2 separate regions of the Homo sapiens genome follow, and region 2 is linked to region 1. The links come from fine-mapping of genetic effects on gene expression. Tissue or cell type: blood mononuclear cells. Region 1 holds a variant in brackets; the other region holds the start of a gene. All regions are shown on one strand. Distances are from middle to middle.

The links. PIP is the estimated chance that this variant, and not a neighbour inherited with it, causes the effect.
Region 2: LRRC58 starts here. The variant in region 1 is fine-mapped to the expression of LRRC58 in blood mononuclear cells (TOPMed, PIP above 0.99).

What each region holds. Positions count from the first base shown.
Region 1 is chr3:120,308,162-120,315,901 of GRCh38, reverse strand. No RefSeq gene overlaps it. Among named protein-coding and RNA genes, the nearest start is that of GPR156, 27 kb to the right of the region's middle. RefSeq lists an enhancer at 1,950-2,553. The variant C/T (reference allele first, on the strand shown) is at 3,873.
Region 2 is chr3:120,346,313-120,354,052 of GRCh38, reverse strand. LRRC58 (leucine rich repeat containing 58) reads left to right here and starts at 4,699. Exons shown (of 4, transcript NM_001099678.2): 1 at 4,699-5,309. The coding sequence starts at 4,810. It also overlaps the pseudogene BTNL12P. RefSeq lists a silencer at 4,704-5,033 and an enhancer at 5,384-5,433.

The DNA of each region.
Region 1 (7,740 bases):
AATTCCTATTTTTTTTTATTTTTGTTCTTGTTTGCTTGGTAAATTTTTCTCCATCCCTTAATTTTGAGCCTATGGGTGTCATTGCATATAATATGGGTTTCTTGACGACAGCATACTATTGTGTCTTGCTTCTTTATCCAGCTTGCCACTCTGTCTCTTTAACTTGGAGCATTTAGTCGATTTACATTCAAAGTTAGTATTGATATGTGTGGATTTGATCCTGTCTTCATGTCATTACCTGTTTATTATGCTGACTTCTTTGTGTGGTTGCTTTATAGTGTCACTGGTCTGTGTACTTAAGAGTGTTTTTATAGTAGCTTGTAATGGTCTTTCCATATTTAGTGCCTCTTTCAGGAGCTCTTTTGAGGGAGGTCTGGTGGTAACAAATTCCCTCAGCATTTGCAATTTCTTATTTCTCCTTTGCTTATGAAGTTTAGTTTGGGCAGACAAGAAATTCTTAGTTGGAATTTATTTTCTCTAAGAATGTTGAATATAGGCCCCAATCTCTTCTGGCTTATAGGGTCTCTGCCAAGAGGTCTGCTGTTAGTTGGATGGGCTTCCCTTTGTAGGTGACCTGGCCTTTCTCTCTAGTTGCCTTTAAATTTTTTTCTTTCATTTCGACCTTGGAGAATCTGATGATTACGTGTCTAGGGGATGATCTTCTTGTGAAGTATCTTACTGTGTTTCTTTGCATTTCCTGAATTTGAATGTTGGCCTCTCTAGCTAGGTTGGGGAAATTCTCTTGGATGATATCCTGAAATATATGTTCCAAATTGGTACCATTCTCCAAATTGGTACCAGTCTCTCTTTCAGGGACATCAGTGAGTCATAGATTTGGTCTCTTTGCATAATCCCTCATTTCTTGGAGGTTTTGTTTATTCCTTTTCAATATTTTTTCTTTATTCTTGTCTGTCTTCAGAATGTCAGTCTTTAAGCTCTGAGATTCTTTCCTTAGCTTGGTTTATTGTGCTATTAATTACAATTGCATTATGAAGTTCTTGTAGAGTGTTTTTCAGTTCTTTCAGGTTGGTTATATTCTTTCTATACTGGGTACTTTGTCTGCCAGCTCTGTATCATTTAATTGTGATTCTTAGCTTCCTTAGATTGGGTTTCAACATTCTCCTGAACCTCAATGATCATTCCTATCCATATTCTGAATTCTATTTCTGTCATTTCAGCCATCTCAGCCAGGTAAGAACCCTTGCTGGAGAACAAGTACAGTTGTTTGGAGGAATGAAGGCACTCTGGCTTTTTGAGTTGTCAGAGTTATGGTGCTGGTTTTTTCTTATATTTGTGGGCTTTTATTCTTTCCATCTTTGAAGTTGCTGTCTTTTTTGTCTTTATCCTATTTGGTGACCTTGGGGACCTGATTATAGTAGTGTTGGGTTCAGGTGACTGACTTCATTTCTGGAAGATTTTAGGGGGCCAAGCTTCAGCTCAGGACTCCTGGACTGCATGTTCTAACTCTGGGAGACTGGTATTGAGCCCCAACTTTGTTCTCTGGCTCCTCGAGGTTATGAACCTATTGTGCTGGAGGGGCCAAGGTGTTCCCAGACTACTGGTCACAATACTCTAATGGGTGATGCCATCCAAAGCACATCATAGCAGGGTGACAGTGTGATCTGTCCTAATTTGCCTGTGCCAGCTGCAGCAGCAGCAGCAGCATGGTGGGATGCATACTGCATGCTCATCAGCTACAGCAGGGTACTAGTGGGTACTAGGGTGGCAGCCTTCATGGGGCTGTGTGCATGTTCCTCTGGTGGTGGTATTAGTACAGGGTTGGGGCACTGGAGGGTGCAGGACTGTGTGAGGTCTCTGTGCACATTCACACCCACAGCAGTGGCTGGTCAGAGCAAGGGTGGGTTCACTATTCTCCATGACTAGTTATGTGCCAGTGGCAGTGTTGGCACAGAGGCAGGGCACTTGCAGGGGTAGGACTGGCAAGCTCCATGCTCACCACCATCTGACAACAATGGCATTGTGACGGGGGAGGGGAGCAGGGTGCAGTCACCCTGGCAGCAGTGACATGGCAGGGTGCACACACCCACACATACTGGCAGGGAAGGTAAGGCAAAGTCTGCCTTCATACACATACACTGGCACAGTGATGCAGGGGGTGGCTGTGGGCAAGTGCATGCAGTCAAAGTGGCATGGGGGAGGCTGCAGTGGAGGGAGGGCACAGGCAGGCTGGTGTGTGTCCATAGGGGCCACTCTGCTGGAGCACTCTGCTGGTCAGACAAGGTCTGCCAGTCTTCGGATGTCCTAGTCCCTTGGGGGGAGATGTTCCTCCTGGCTGCGTGTAGTTGGCCATCTTAGAGAGAGAGCCAGGAATTTCTTTCTAGTTCTAAGAAAACATAGAATCAAAGGATTAGCAGCAAGAACTTGAGAAGTCATCATCACACCACTTTTTGCAAAAGGACAATTAATCCATTAGGGTAAAAACATATCCTATGTTTAAATAACTCCCAGAAGATTTTTCTTCTTTAGGAATTCTGAAGCTTAACAATGGTCACTAAAGGAAGCATTTTCTTTCTTTTCTTTCTTTCTTTCTTTTTTTTGAGACGTTTGAAACAAGAGTTTTGCTCTTGTTGCCCAGGCTGGAGTGCAATGGTGCAATCTCAGCTCACTGCAACCTCCACCTCCTGGGTTCAAGTGATTCTCCTGCCTCAGCCTCCCAAGTAGCTGGGATTACAGGCATGTGCTGCCAAGCCTGGCTAATTTTGTATTTTTAGTAGAGACAAGTTTTCTCCATGTTGGTCAAGCTGGTCTCGAACTCCTGACCTCAGGTGATCCACCCGCCTTGGCCTCCCAAAGTGCTGGGATTACAGGCATGAGCCACCACACCCAGCCAAAGGAAGTATTTTCTAAGGTTCTTGTGATTTGTGCTAGCCATATTAGATGTGCAGATAACTTTTAAATTGTTTATGTCATCAGAGAAGCACAGTGACACTAAGACGTGTGCACTACCCATTATGTTATTTTTGTACCTTGGTCTGGCTCTAAAATCTTGCTGCTCTCACTTTCTCCCAATCCACAGTTCTTCCCACCACTATAAACGTCAAGGCACACAGGAGTTGTTAGGGACAGACTCCCCCAAGAAAGCTTCTTGGTGCTGCCCACACTTCCCCCAAGTCTCTTTACATTTCTAAGCCCTTGTCTAGGCACCACGGTGAAGCCAGCAGACTTCACTTATCAGACCTTGCTGCAGTAAGCAAACCCCAATTACAAACCATCTGGACCGCACAGTGGGAGGTCGTGGGAAGCATAAACAAACTACCTACACCCTCCTATAATAAACCTCACAAGGTGATATGTGGCAAAATTAACCCCATTGAATCCTTTCTTGAAATTCTTTAACATAGTTCCTAACAAGGTAGGCTTACTTTGTGTTTTACTCATTTTCCTCAGGAGACAAAACAACACTCTTACCACAAAGAGGGAAGGGAAAAAGGGGCAAAAAGTCACTCACTCACCAAGCAATTCACACTAAAACCAAAGTATGGATAAGGAGTTACTTATTCATCAAGCAATTTGAGCCAAGTCAGAACCGAAATCAAAGCCAAAACAGTTCAAAACCAAAAGTCAATACTGAAATCTAAACCAAAACAGTGCAAATCTAGTCAAAATCAAAACCAAAACCAAGGTGCCAAAAAGGCACGCCATGGGTGATCAGGCCACACTTCCACTCAGATGGAGTGGGCAAGTTCGAAGACCGGTCTTACCGTGTTCCAGATGTCCGGACTCCAAGCGCCAATTCCTTCCCGGTGTTCAGCCGCTGCATTAATCCTCCGCGGGGGCCTACCGTGCAGTGCTCTGGAGGCGTTCCACTGGGGCAATTGCCTACCGGGGAGCGCTCTCAGGATTCGCATCGC[C/T]AAAGCTGGCCAGAGTCTCCCACAGGGATGCTCCACTGGGCAGGCCTAAGCCGCCTAAGGGGCTGCCTCGACCATCCGCTTATCACCTTGCTTCCAGATCAGGGAACCAAGAAATGTAGCAGGACAAGCCACAGACAAAACCCCTCAGACACCGAGTTGAGGAAGGAAAGGGCTTTATTGGCCAGGAGCATCAGCAGACTTATGTCTCAAAAAAACCGAGCTCCCCGAGTGAGCAATTCCTGTCCCTTTTAAGGGCTTACAACTCTAAGGAGGTCGAGTGAGAGGGTCATGATCGATTGAGCAAGCAGGGGGTACCTGACTGGGGGCTGCATGCACCGGTAATCAGAATGGAACAGAACAGGACAGGGATTTTCACGATGCTTTTCCATACAATGTCTGGGACACAAGCAGTTAAGTCAGGAGTTGATTGTTAACTACTAGGCCCAAGGCACGTTGCTGGGCTGCCTGCCTGTGGATTTCATTTCTGCCCTTCAGTTTTTAATTCTTTTTTCTTTGGAGGCAGAAATTGGGCATAAGACAATAAGAGGGGTGTTCTCCTCCCTTACTATGACTCCTGCTTCTCAGGATACTCCACAACCAATCATGAGCCCCACTGAGTCAACAAAGCAAAAAACAATATATTAATATCTAAAGGAAAAAAAAAAGAAATAAAAGATTTTGCAACTTCAAATTCCTTACATGAGTGAAAGGAGATGATCACTGTTGAGACCCAAATTAGTGGGCTAGATGATCAAATGGGGAAAATAGCTTAGAACAAGGAGGAAAGATATAAAGTATAAAAGGAAAATATCTTAGGCCCCCAGAATCACTAAGGAAAACTCAAGCTGGAAACTGCTTAGGGCAAACATGCCTCCCGTTTTATTCAAAGTCACTCCTCTGCTCACCGACATAGATACATATCTGACTTACCCTCCTTTGGAAAGGCTAATCAGAAACTCAAAAAAATGTAACCATTTGTGTATCACCTATCTGTGACCTGGAAGCTCCCTCCCTGCTTCCTGCCTTTAGTTCAAGTTGTCCTGCCTTTCCAGACTGAACCAATGTACTTCTTACATACATTGATTAATGTCTCATGTCTCCCCAAATGTATAAAGCCAAGCTTTGCCCTGACCACTGTGGGCACATGTCATCAGGACTTCCTGAAGCTGTGTCATGACGCATCCTCAACCTTGGCAAAATAAACTTTCTAAATTAATTGAGACCTGTTTCAGATTTTCTGGGTTCACAAAAGCAATTAAAATCATGAGAGAAAGGATATGTGACATTTTGAGGATAGATCCAAGAAGTTTAGCATATTATATTGGGAGATCCAGATGGGGAAAAAGACACATAGAAGGAAAAGCAACATAAGAAAGGAGAAAAATTTTTGGACCAAGAAATACCTGAATCTACAGATTAAATGGATTCAACAAGTCCAGGCTTGATTGATAAATTCACACACACACACACACCCTTAGCAATATTCTGGAAAGATTCTGGAACTCTAAGGAAAAAAAGAAATCTTTACAAACTTTTCCACTCAGAAAAAATAAATTGCCTTATTAATTATAATGCAAACAGAATCAGACTTCTTGTGCATCAGCAGCAGCTAGAAGTTAGTGGAATATCTGCAGACTTCTGAAATGCAAGGACTCCAACTCAAGAATTTCTTGACCAGCCAAAGAATCATTTAGTTGTCAGAGTGATAGGAAGAAATTATTTGTAGGTATGTATGAAGTCAAAGACTAATGCCTACATTTTCCCACCCTAAGAAAATACTTAAGAAGTGACTCTAGCCAGATGATAGATTAACCATAAGAGAAACTACAAGATGATAAAGAAGGGAAGAAATGGTAGAGATATAGGAGCTGAAAAGAAATTATTTAGGCAGTTAGTGAGGGTAAGAGAGTCCTCGGTGAGGCTTCACTTTTAACAAAAAACAGCCCCAAAACCATTTCTTTTCTAACAAACAGCAGCCAGTAAAATCGAGCTGCAGACATAGATAAGCAAGCTGGAAGCTTGTGCAGGTGAATGCCGGCAGCTGTGCCAATAGGAAAAGGCTATCTGGGGCCAGGCATGTTCAACATGGAAGCTCCATCTTCCATTTTCTTTGTCACCATGTGTGCAGTAAAGAAACAGGGAACATGGTGCCAGCCAGGTAGAAAATTCCTTTGCATAATAAAAGATTAGGGTGCAGTGGCCAGCCTCTTCAGATGCTATACAAATGACACACCTGGTCCAACCAATTCTCTGCACCCTCTGCAAATCAGACACCACCTCCTCAAGCCCATCCGTAAAACCAGCCGCATCTTGCCAGGTTCCGGGAGATCCGTTTGGAACCCCCTCCCTCTGCACAAGGGAGCTTTTCTCTTTTGCCTATTAAACTTTCACTCTTAAACTCACTCCTTCTTAGTCCGTTTCCTTGATTTCCTTGGTGTGAGGCAATGAACCTGGGGTATTACCCCAGACAAACAACACTGCTTCAGTAGTGAGCAACAAAATGTAGAACAAATAAATCAATATAAAGACATATATAGACAAAAGATATCTAGATAATTACAGATGGAGAATGTGTAAGTGCAGATACAAAACAACATAATAGCTAGATATATGAAGCAAAACCTGTAAGAAATAAAAGAAGAATTTGATTAAATAAAATTATATTGGAAAACTTAAACTTTTTTTTCAGAATTGGATAAATTTGGTATATAGCAAATGTGGGATGGCATAGGAATTAAATAATACAATTAATAAATGATGTGGTATCTATGTGTAAGCTCTAACATCCCTCGAACTACAAGAAAACATGTTTTCGTACCGATAGAATATTTACAAAAGTCAGTCATATTTGACCAAGAAGAAAACCTTAACAGACTCTAAAAACCACATTCCTTTATTTCAAGCCAACAGATTGAAAACAAATAATGTAAAGATAGTAAGAAACCACACACAGAAAAAAATTTTTTAAATTATAAAATATCTATAAAGCAATGAAAAAGAGAACACTTTTTACCAAAATCCAAATGACACAGTGGAAATTACTCAGAAGAAAATGTGTACATTAAAGTTTTCATAAAATAATATAAAAATAATATTAGATTTCATTTCAAGAAATTAGAAAAAAAGAGCAACAAAGTCAATTTTTAAAAATTAGAAAGAGAGCCGGGCACAGTGGCTCATGCCTGTAATCCCAGCACTTTGGGAGGCCGAGGTGGGCAGATCACGAGGTCAAGAGTTTCAGTCCACCCTGGCCAACATGGTGAAACCCCGTCTCTACTAAAAAAAAATACAAAAATTAGCCGGGCGTGGTGGCGGGCGCCTGTAGTCCCAGCTACTGTAGTCCCAGCTACTCGGGAGGCTGAGGCAGAAGAATCGCTTGATCCCGGAGGCGCAGGTTGTAGTGAGCCGAGATCACGCAACTGCACTCCAGCCTGGGCGACAGTGAGACTCTGCCTCAAAAAAAAAAAAAAAAAAAAGAAAAGAAAGAATGTATAAAGACAAAAGCTAAAATTATTTTAATAGAAAACAGTAGAATGTACAAATAAATACAAAATCCTTTGCAAAAGATGAAAAAGATCTGGTCTGATTAAGAAAAAAGACTGAGCAAAAGTAACAAAATTAAAAATTCTGTAGAAAACTACAAATTAGGAGAAATTAAAAGTTTAATAAGAGAAACCCATAGCAACAAACTGGAATCCTAAAGAAAATAGCTGATTTCCTAGTAAAAATACAAATTACCAAAATTGACTCTGAAATAAGGATAGTATAAATAGAACAAGTAGCACAGAAAAATTTTAAATTGTCCTTAAAAGTCTTGCATTGGGAAAGATCCCACGATTACGTGGGTTCACAGCTGAGTGTTAGTTGA
Region 2 (7,740 bases), 38 kb before region 1:
GATGGCAGAACTTTAAACCATCCTAGGCCAATATGGATAAACCAGACTGAGAGGGATTTAGCAGTGGAAATAAATCAAAACCTTGCATGCTAGCCTAAGCAACTGGCCTTCATCTGATAAGCAATGAGGAAACATGGGGTAAAGGCAGGAGGAAAAGAGATGGGTTGAAATCATGAAAGCAGTGCTTTAGAAAGGACAGTCTGAATCAGAGGTGGCTAAAATAAAGGTAGGAGTGGGTTTAGCAGGCATGAGGTCCTGATATACCTTGAAGACAAAAAAGACAATAAGCATAAATCTTGGGCAAGAGAGGTCAGACCAACCTCCCAAATCCTAATCCCTAAGACACAGAATGGCCCAGAGCAGAGGACCATGGTTTATGTAGGAAATTGTGCAATCATGAGTAAAGACTGTTCTCAACTTTGTTTTTCTACCCTGATCATGATATAACAAGTGGCAGAGAGCAATAGTTATAACATTAACTACTATTACAGCTAATAATAATAATTGCCACTACTTACAGAGTATTGACTTTGTGCTAGGTACTATGCTAAGCACTTTAGATTTTCACCTTACAATGACCCTATGGAACAGATAATATATTTTATAATACAGATGATGAAATCAAGCCTTACAGAAATTAAGTAACAAAATCAAGATTAAGTAAGAGAAATCTGATTTCCAGAGGTGGGTTTTGAAACCTGTATCTGATAAAAACCAAAGCCCACTCTTTTAACTGCATCAGTATGCTGCCTCCTAACTAGAATGGTTTATGAAAGGATTCTCTACTTAGATTATTTCTTGTTTTTTCTGCAGTCAGTAGGTCAATAGGGCCTATTTAAGTAAGGTATGTCAAAAACTATTCATGCATTTATTGCGTTCACTCACTATTTGCTGCCTACGATGTCTTGGGGGATACCATGGTAAACAGATGCAGTTCCTGCCTTCAGGAAGCCTAGAAAGGGTAGCTGAAGGAGGAGGAGAATTCATTTGGTCTCCTAAATGTCCAATACTATTCCAGTCAAGAGACTTATCTTGAAATGTATTCAATTGGCCAAGCCTGACATAATGGTGAAGTTCTGATAAGTGGACAAACAGGCCATGTACTTTCCCAGTTCCCTGTAACCCATGTTCCTTTCCCTATGTAACATATTCTGTTGTCTCCTCTGTCCTTTACCTTCTCCAGTGCCTCCACTCCCCTCTCAGGCATCTCTTTCAGCTAGCCACAGATGAACCCCATCACTGTGGGGGTTCACAAGCCACCACAGCTCTTTTACCTCCCAGAAAGTTTTCAGTATTCTCCAGGCTGACTGGAGGGTTTCAAGGGCCACTGTAAGATTGGGGGATGCTGCTTCATTTAAACCCATCTGGCTGCAGTGAAAAGAGATACATCCACGTTAGCTAAGATAGAGAAGGGTTATTATACTGGGCAGTAAGAAGATGCTCACATTTAATCCAGCTGTTAACAAGTTGGCCTCAGTGAAGCTGCACCTGGTGCGTTACTCTGGATATGAGGCAGTCCTAGATTTCAGCAGCAATATTTTATGAATCTTCACACTTATGTTTCACAATTGACAAAAAATTAGCGACATTCCCCATGTCTGCTTCTTTCTGATTCAACTGTAATTTCTTTCTGATCTGCCACCAACTGGAATTTCCCTCTGGGTTCTTTGGATTAAATTCCTGGGCGAGTGAGAAAAAAAAATAATCTCTGCTTCTGTTTGGGCAGTGCCTTATAAGTGACAGGCCACCAGGCAGTCTGTTGATGGGCTTACCTTGGTCAGATGTCCACTATGGCTCCGATCAACATAGGTTCTAAAGTGACGTCATATGATACAAGGACAGCACCCCAAATTATGTTTGGTTCAGGTGCCTCTGCTCCAGTTTTGTGTATGAAGCCCACAAAACCCCCAATCCTTAAGACAAGTGCCGTATAATTCCAACAATCACAATATTTCAAAGTACCATCAATGGATAGATGCCACTTGTAATACTGACACTATTTGGAAGATCTTATTGCTTTGAATCATTTAAAACAAAAAACAAAAAAAACTAAGCTCAAGAGAGCAGTGTAGTGTAGTGGAAAGAACATAGACTTTGGAGCCACACAGCCCTAAGGCTGAATTTCTAATTAGCCTTTCACTCTCTGTGATAGCAGACTTTACTCATCATTTTTGAGCTTGAGTTCCCTCATTTCTAAAATGCGGATAAACATTCTTATTTATAAATGTGGCGATAAGTAGAATTACATTTTTTAAGGTTTGTGATAAAAGGTGTTTGATAAATAAAAATTCCTTTTCAACTAAAACTTAATATTTACAAATATATTCAGTGTTTCAAAAGATATAGAGTACCTGTACCTACTGTGGAGCAGGCACTGTTAGGGGATGGGTATATAATAATAAGACAGTTCTTTTCAAGGACTTTACAATTTACTCTAATTATTCAAAAAATAAGTCCACTAACTAAGAGATATATCCAACTCAGTCAATCCAAATTATTTGCAAGAAATCATACTAGGCAATGGGGGATGGTGGTGGTGTGAGGGAGAATCCAAAAATGAATAAAGATAGTCATTCTATGTAAGTAGGAACCTACTCTAATTGGACATGAGATGTGCATTTTACACTGAAATTTACAGTTTCCTTGCCAATAGCTTCAATGAGGCAGAAACACAGTTTTCAACTTTTAGAAAGCAGTTTCTCAGTTATCTTAGCTGCTCAATGGTCTGGTTACATTTATCCTAAATTCAACAACCAAATAGTTGGAGACTTTATTAAATTAAAAGCTCCTAGTACAGCGTTGCAAGCAGTAGGTTTTCAAAATTTGTCAGGTTACTCATTTCTTTACCTACACCACTTTTTTTCTACTTCCTTTCCTTTATTCTATATAATGTGGAGTTCCCATACTAAGTATTTTTTTCCAAACTTTCTACTAGGAAGCCTCATTTGCTATTATTGAGGTTATCTTTTTCCCTTTAATTCCACTGATTTGTAATCTTACCTCTTATTTTATTTTTCTTGAGACAAAAAAAAAAAAAAGTGCAGGGCAGTGGCACAATCATGGCTCTCTGCAACCTCTACCTCTTAGGCTGAAACAATCCTCCCAGCAGCCTGTGTAGTAGTTGGCACCACAGGCGAGCGCCACTAGGCCCGGCTAATTTTTGTATTTTTTGTAGAGACGGGGTTTCCCCATGTTGGCCAGGCTGGTCTGGAACTCCTGACCTCAGCGATCTGCTGGCCTGGGCCAAAGCACTGGGATTACAGGCATGAGCCATGGCACCTGGCCAACTCTTATTTCTGAATTATGTTTGAATCCTTTCTTTTTCTCATTTTACATTACGTTCCTATCACTTTTTAAAATCCAAGATAAATATTTTAAAGCAAAAACAACTATTATTTTAAATATTTGTTATTTTCAGATATTAGGACTACTGTTAGAATGCTGGCTTGACCCAAAATAAGGTCTGTTCTTAAAAGGACTCTTTCAAAACAGATGACTCATCAGTTTTAAAAAGCATTCCACCATTAGCTTAAACATACAAAGTACGTCCTTCTAGGACTACCACTCAATCAGAAATTAAAGTTTGACTGCAGAGTAAAGGCATAGTTTCTCATACAAATAAATGACTGGCAAGAAAAAAACGACTTTCCTTTTTTAAGGAGGAAAGCAATTTAATGTCGTTGATTATACACGACCACTTAACTTTCTTATGTATAAGCTTTGTTAAAAAAAAAAAAAGCTAAGCATTTTTTCTCATTTCTATTCATTACTTTTCAAAATCATAAAATGTAATTTCAGAAAAGATTGAGTTTGGGACAAGGATGAAAAATACGTTAATTAGAATTACTAAATTAGTACCAGATCAGGATTTTCCCAAACTGTAGTTTTGACCTGCAGTACAAACTCTATGCTTTGAGTTTTTAAACTAACTCATTAATTTGAGCTATCTCAAATCATGCAACCGCCTCCATATCTCCCAAATTCACTCCTAGACACAACTTACACCAAAAGCCACGTATGTGCTTCTACAATTAAAACGGGCAAAACGTCCTTACTTGATACACATTTCTGCCTTAAAAAAGAAAAAAATAATTCTGTGGGGCAAGTAGTGCGGGTGTTACCCATATTTTATGCATGGGGCAACTGAAATCAAATCCCTGCCCTAGGCTATTTAACAGCGGAACCTCCAGTAAGGGTCCGGGGGTTCTGAGGTCTAGTCCAGCTGCGTTCACATTTCGAGGTCGGCTTTGTTAATCCTCGGACTTTAAATTCCTGCGGTTTTCTGTCATGGAGCTAAATCACCACTAAATTACTGTGTGCTCACAGAGTCCTGCAGACACGGGCCCCACTTTTAAACTGAAAAACAAGCGGGGGACGGGGGGGGCACGTGACGCGCGAACCCTCAAGGCGAGATAACCGAACATCCTTGGGCTGTTTGCCGAGGCAGTCTTGTAGCCCTGGAATAGGTCACCAGGCTCCAGCGACTATAAAGCGCGGCCGCCGAAACCCGGTCCGGCTCAGATGACAATTTGGCAGCCTCTGGGTGTCTGCCTCAGTTCTGCGCAGCCCATGCTGCGCTCTTGCCACTCCGCGCCCCGCGCCTCGTGAGGCAGAGCCCGCCCCGGAGCGGCGCGCGCACCCCAGGACTCGCGTCGCGTGACTCGGCCAAGGCGCGCAGGGTTTGCGCCCGCCCGCGCCACTTCCGACTCAGCCCTCGGTTCAGGTTCCGGGGCGCCGCAGAGCTCCCGGCCTCTGGACCGCGCGCGGCGCTCTGGGGAATCCGGCGCCACGCGCCGTGCGGTGGCCAGGATGGAGGAGGCCGGAGCAGCGGTGGTCACGGCCGGGGAGGCCGAACTGAACTGGTCCCGCCTCAGCGTGTCCACCGAGACGCTGGAGTCTGAGCTGGAGGCGCGGGGGGAGGAGCGGCGCGGGGCGCGGGAGGCGCTGCTGCGGCTGCTGCTGCCTCACAACCGTCTGGTGTCGCTGCCACGGGCGCTGGGCAGCGGCTTCCCGCACCTCCAGCTGCTGGACGTGAGCGGCAACGCGTTGACCGCGCTCGGGCCGGAGCTGCTCGCTCTGCGCGGCCTGCGCACGCTGCTGGCCAAGAACAACCGGCTCGGCGGGCCCAGTGCGCTGCCCAAGGGCCTGGCCCAGTCGCCGCTCTGCCGCAGCCTCCAGGTGCTCAACCTCAGCGGCAACTGTTTCCAGGAGGTGCCTGCCTCGCTCTTAGAGCTGCGCGCGCTGCAGACCCTGAGCCTGGGCGGCAACCAACTGCAGAGCATCCCGGCTGAGATCGAGAACTTGCAGAGGTGAGCGGGTGTGTGCCGGAGGGTGGGGAGGCCTCGGGCGGTGTCCGGGAACCCTGGGGCGCCGGGCCTGGGCACCTCAACGTTTGTCACGTAACTATTTCCAAGCTTTCTCTTTAACTGTGCGGTAGTGAGTTCTGCCCAACCATCTCAGCAAGTTGTTGTAAATACCTAGTATGTTCGCATGTGTGACTGTTTGGTGTGTTGTGTTTGGCCTATGCAGATTCTCGAGGCATTTTTTCTGTCTTCCTTATTGAATCTGGGGCGTGATCCAAACTGAGTGGAAACTCAAAACAGATGTAAATCAGAGGTTGTCACTTCTTTGCTCAAAAGTCTTCCGTGGATTTCCATCTCTATAGATCAAAGTACGTGCCTTTGAGCGTGGCGTACAAGGTGCTCTGATCTAACCCTTGCTTTCCACTACATTTGCAGCTTCCTCTTCTCTGTGGCAGTACCAACTACCATTTGTGGAGTTCAGTGACCTATGCATTTTCCCACGTAGAGAAAGCAGCTTGGAGTTGCTGGTAGGCACTCAGTATGTGTTGAATGGATGCAGTGCCTCTGTACACGTGCTGTTTCCCTTGCTTGGAATGTTTCCTTCACCTGGCAAACGCCTATCATCCTTCAAAAGCTATCTCAAGTTAATCATCTCTGTGATTCCTTTTTTACTACTCCCTGCACAACAATTTTTTTCGTTACTACTCCCTGCACAAAAAAGTACAGCCTATGCTGTACTTTCTCTGTGCTTCATTCATCTTGCCTTTGCATTTACCTTATTGGATATGATTCCTTGTTTACAGGAATTATCTGCTTCACCTACTAGATTATGCAGTAAATATGTTAAATTTAACTTTAGGAGGAAGCAGAGAAACAGGATAATAAAAGTGCCCGGTGGGGGAGTGGGAAATAGAGCCAAATGTATTGTACAAAACGAAAAAGAGGTATCTTCCATCTGTAAGATATTTTCACACTTTATTGTATTTTCAGAGATAACAGAACGTTAAAGGTAGAAGGGACCTCAGAGTTAAGTGGAGCAAAAGAATATTGGCCTGGGAAGGCCGGGCGCGGTGGCTCACGCCTGTAATCCCAGCACTTTGGGAGGCCAAGGCAGGTGGATCATGAGGTCAGGAGATCGAGACCATCCTGGCTAACAAGGTGAAACCCCGTCTCTACTAAAAATACAAAAAATTAGCCGGGCGCGGTGGCGGGCGCCTGTAGTCCCAGCTACTCGGGAGGCTGAGGCAGGAGAATGGCGTGAACCCGGGAAGCGGAGCTTGCAGTGAGCCGAGATTGCGCCACTGCAGTCCGCAGTCCGGCCTGGGCGACAGAGCGAGACTCTGTCTCAAAAAAAAAAAAAAAAAAAAAAAGAATATTGGCCTGGGAAAAAAGAACTCTTGGTGCTCCAGCCTTAGGCAAGTCACTTGTATCCTAACTGTAGCGTATCCTAACTGTAGCTTTCTAATCTACAAATGAAGCATTTGGGCAAGATGTCTCTTCATTTACTCTTCAATAGATATTTATTGAATACCTGCCCTGTGTCAGGCACTGTCCCAAGTATTGGGGATACAATGGTGAACATGATCCAGGAGACAGACATTAAACAACTAACTATGAACCTCATTATTTAATTACAGTGGTTATGAGTTCTATGAAGACCTACAGAATGCCTTGAGACAAAATGACAGAGGCACATGGGAAAGCCCAGAGGCAAGGAGGGTAACTACTAAAATTCTGAAAGAAGGACATTGTACTGGGAAGTGAGCAAGAGGGAAAGTGGCAAATATAAATTTGGGCAAGTCAGCCCGTGTCAGGTCTTGAAGGCTATGATAAAGTTTGGATTTTATTCTAAGTGCACATGAGAGAGTTTTAAGCATGTGTCTTGTTGCTATGCAAGAATGGAGTGAGGAGAGGGTGAAGAGATAGAGATTTTGAGGGCTGGTTTGAAGGAGGTCATTGTAATAGGATGAGAGATGATGGTAGCCTATACCAGCTTGATACTAGGAGAAATGCTAAGAAATGGAAGATTTCGAGAAAAGATTTAGAGGTAAAATTGACAGCCCTTGGTTCCTTCTAATTTTAATGTTGCATAATTCCAGCCTTGGAATTTTCTTAATATACTAACAGGAACCCAGGGAAAGTATTATTTCCATCACATGGGGAGAAAAGTAGGCAAAAATCCCATTTATTTAATACTTACAATGCAGTAGATCCTGTCATAGGTGCTAACTATGCTTTTTAATACTCACAATGATGCCATAAGATGATGTGCTCCCATTTTTCAGAGGCAGAAACTGAAGCTCAGAGAAATTAAGTCATAAGATTACAAGGCTAGTAAGCATTGGAACTGTATTTGACCTCTGTGGTCTGTGACTCCAAACCCTTGAGTTCTGCACAGTGGCAGAGTACTAGAACCTGAATCTTTGTTGGGGGGTTG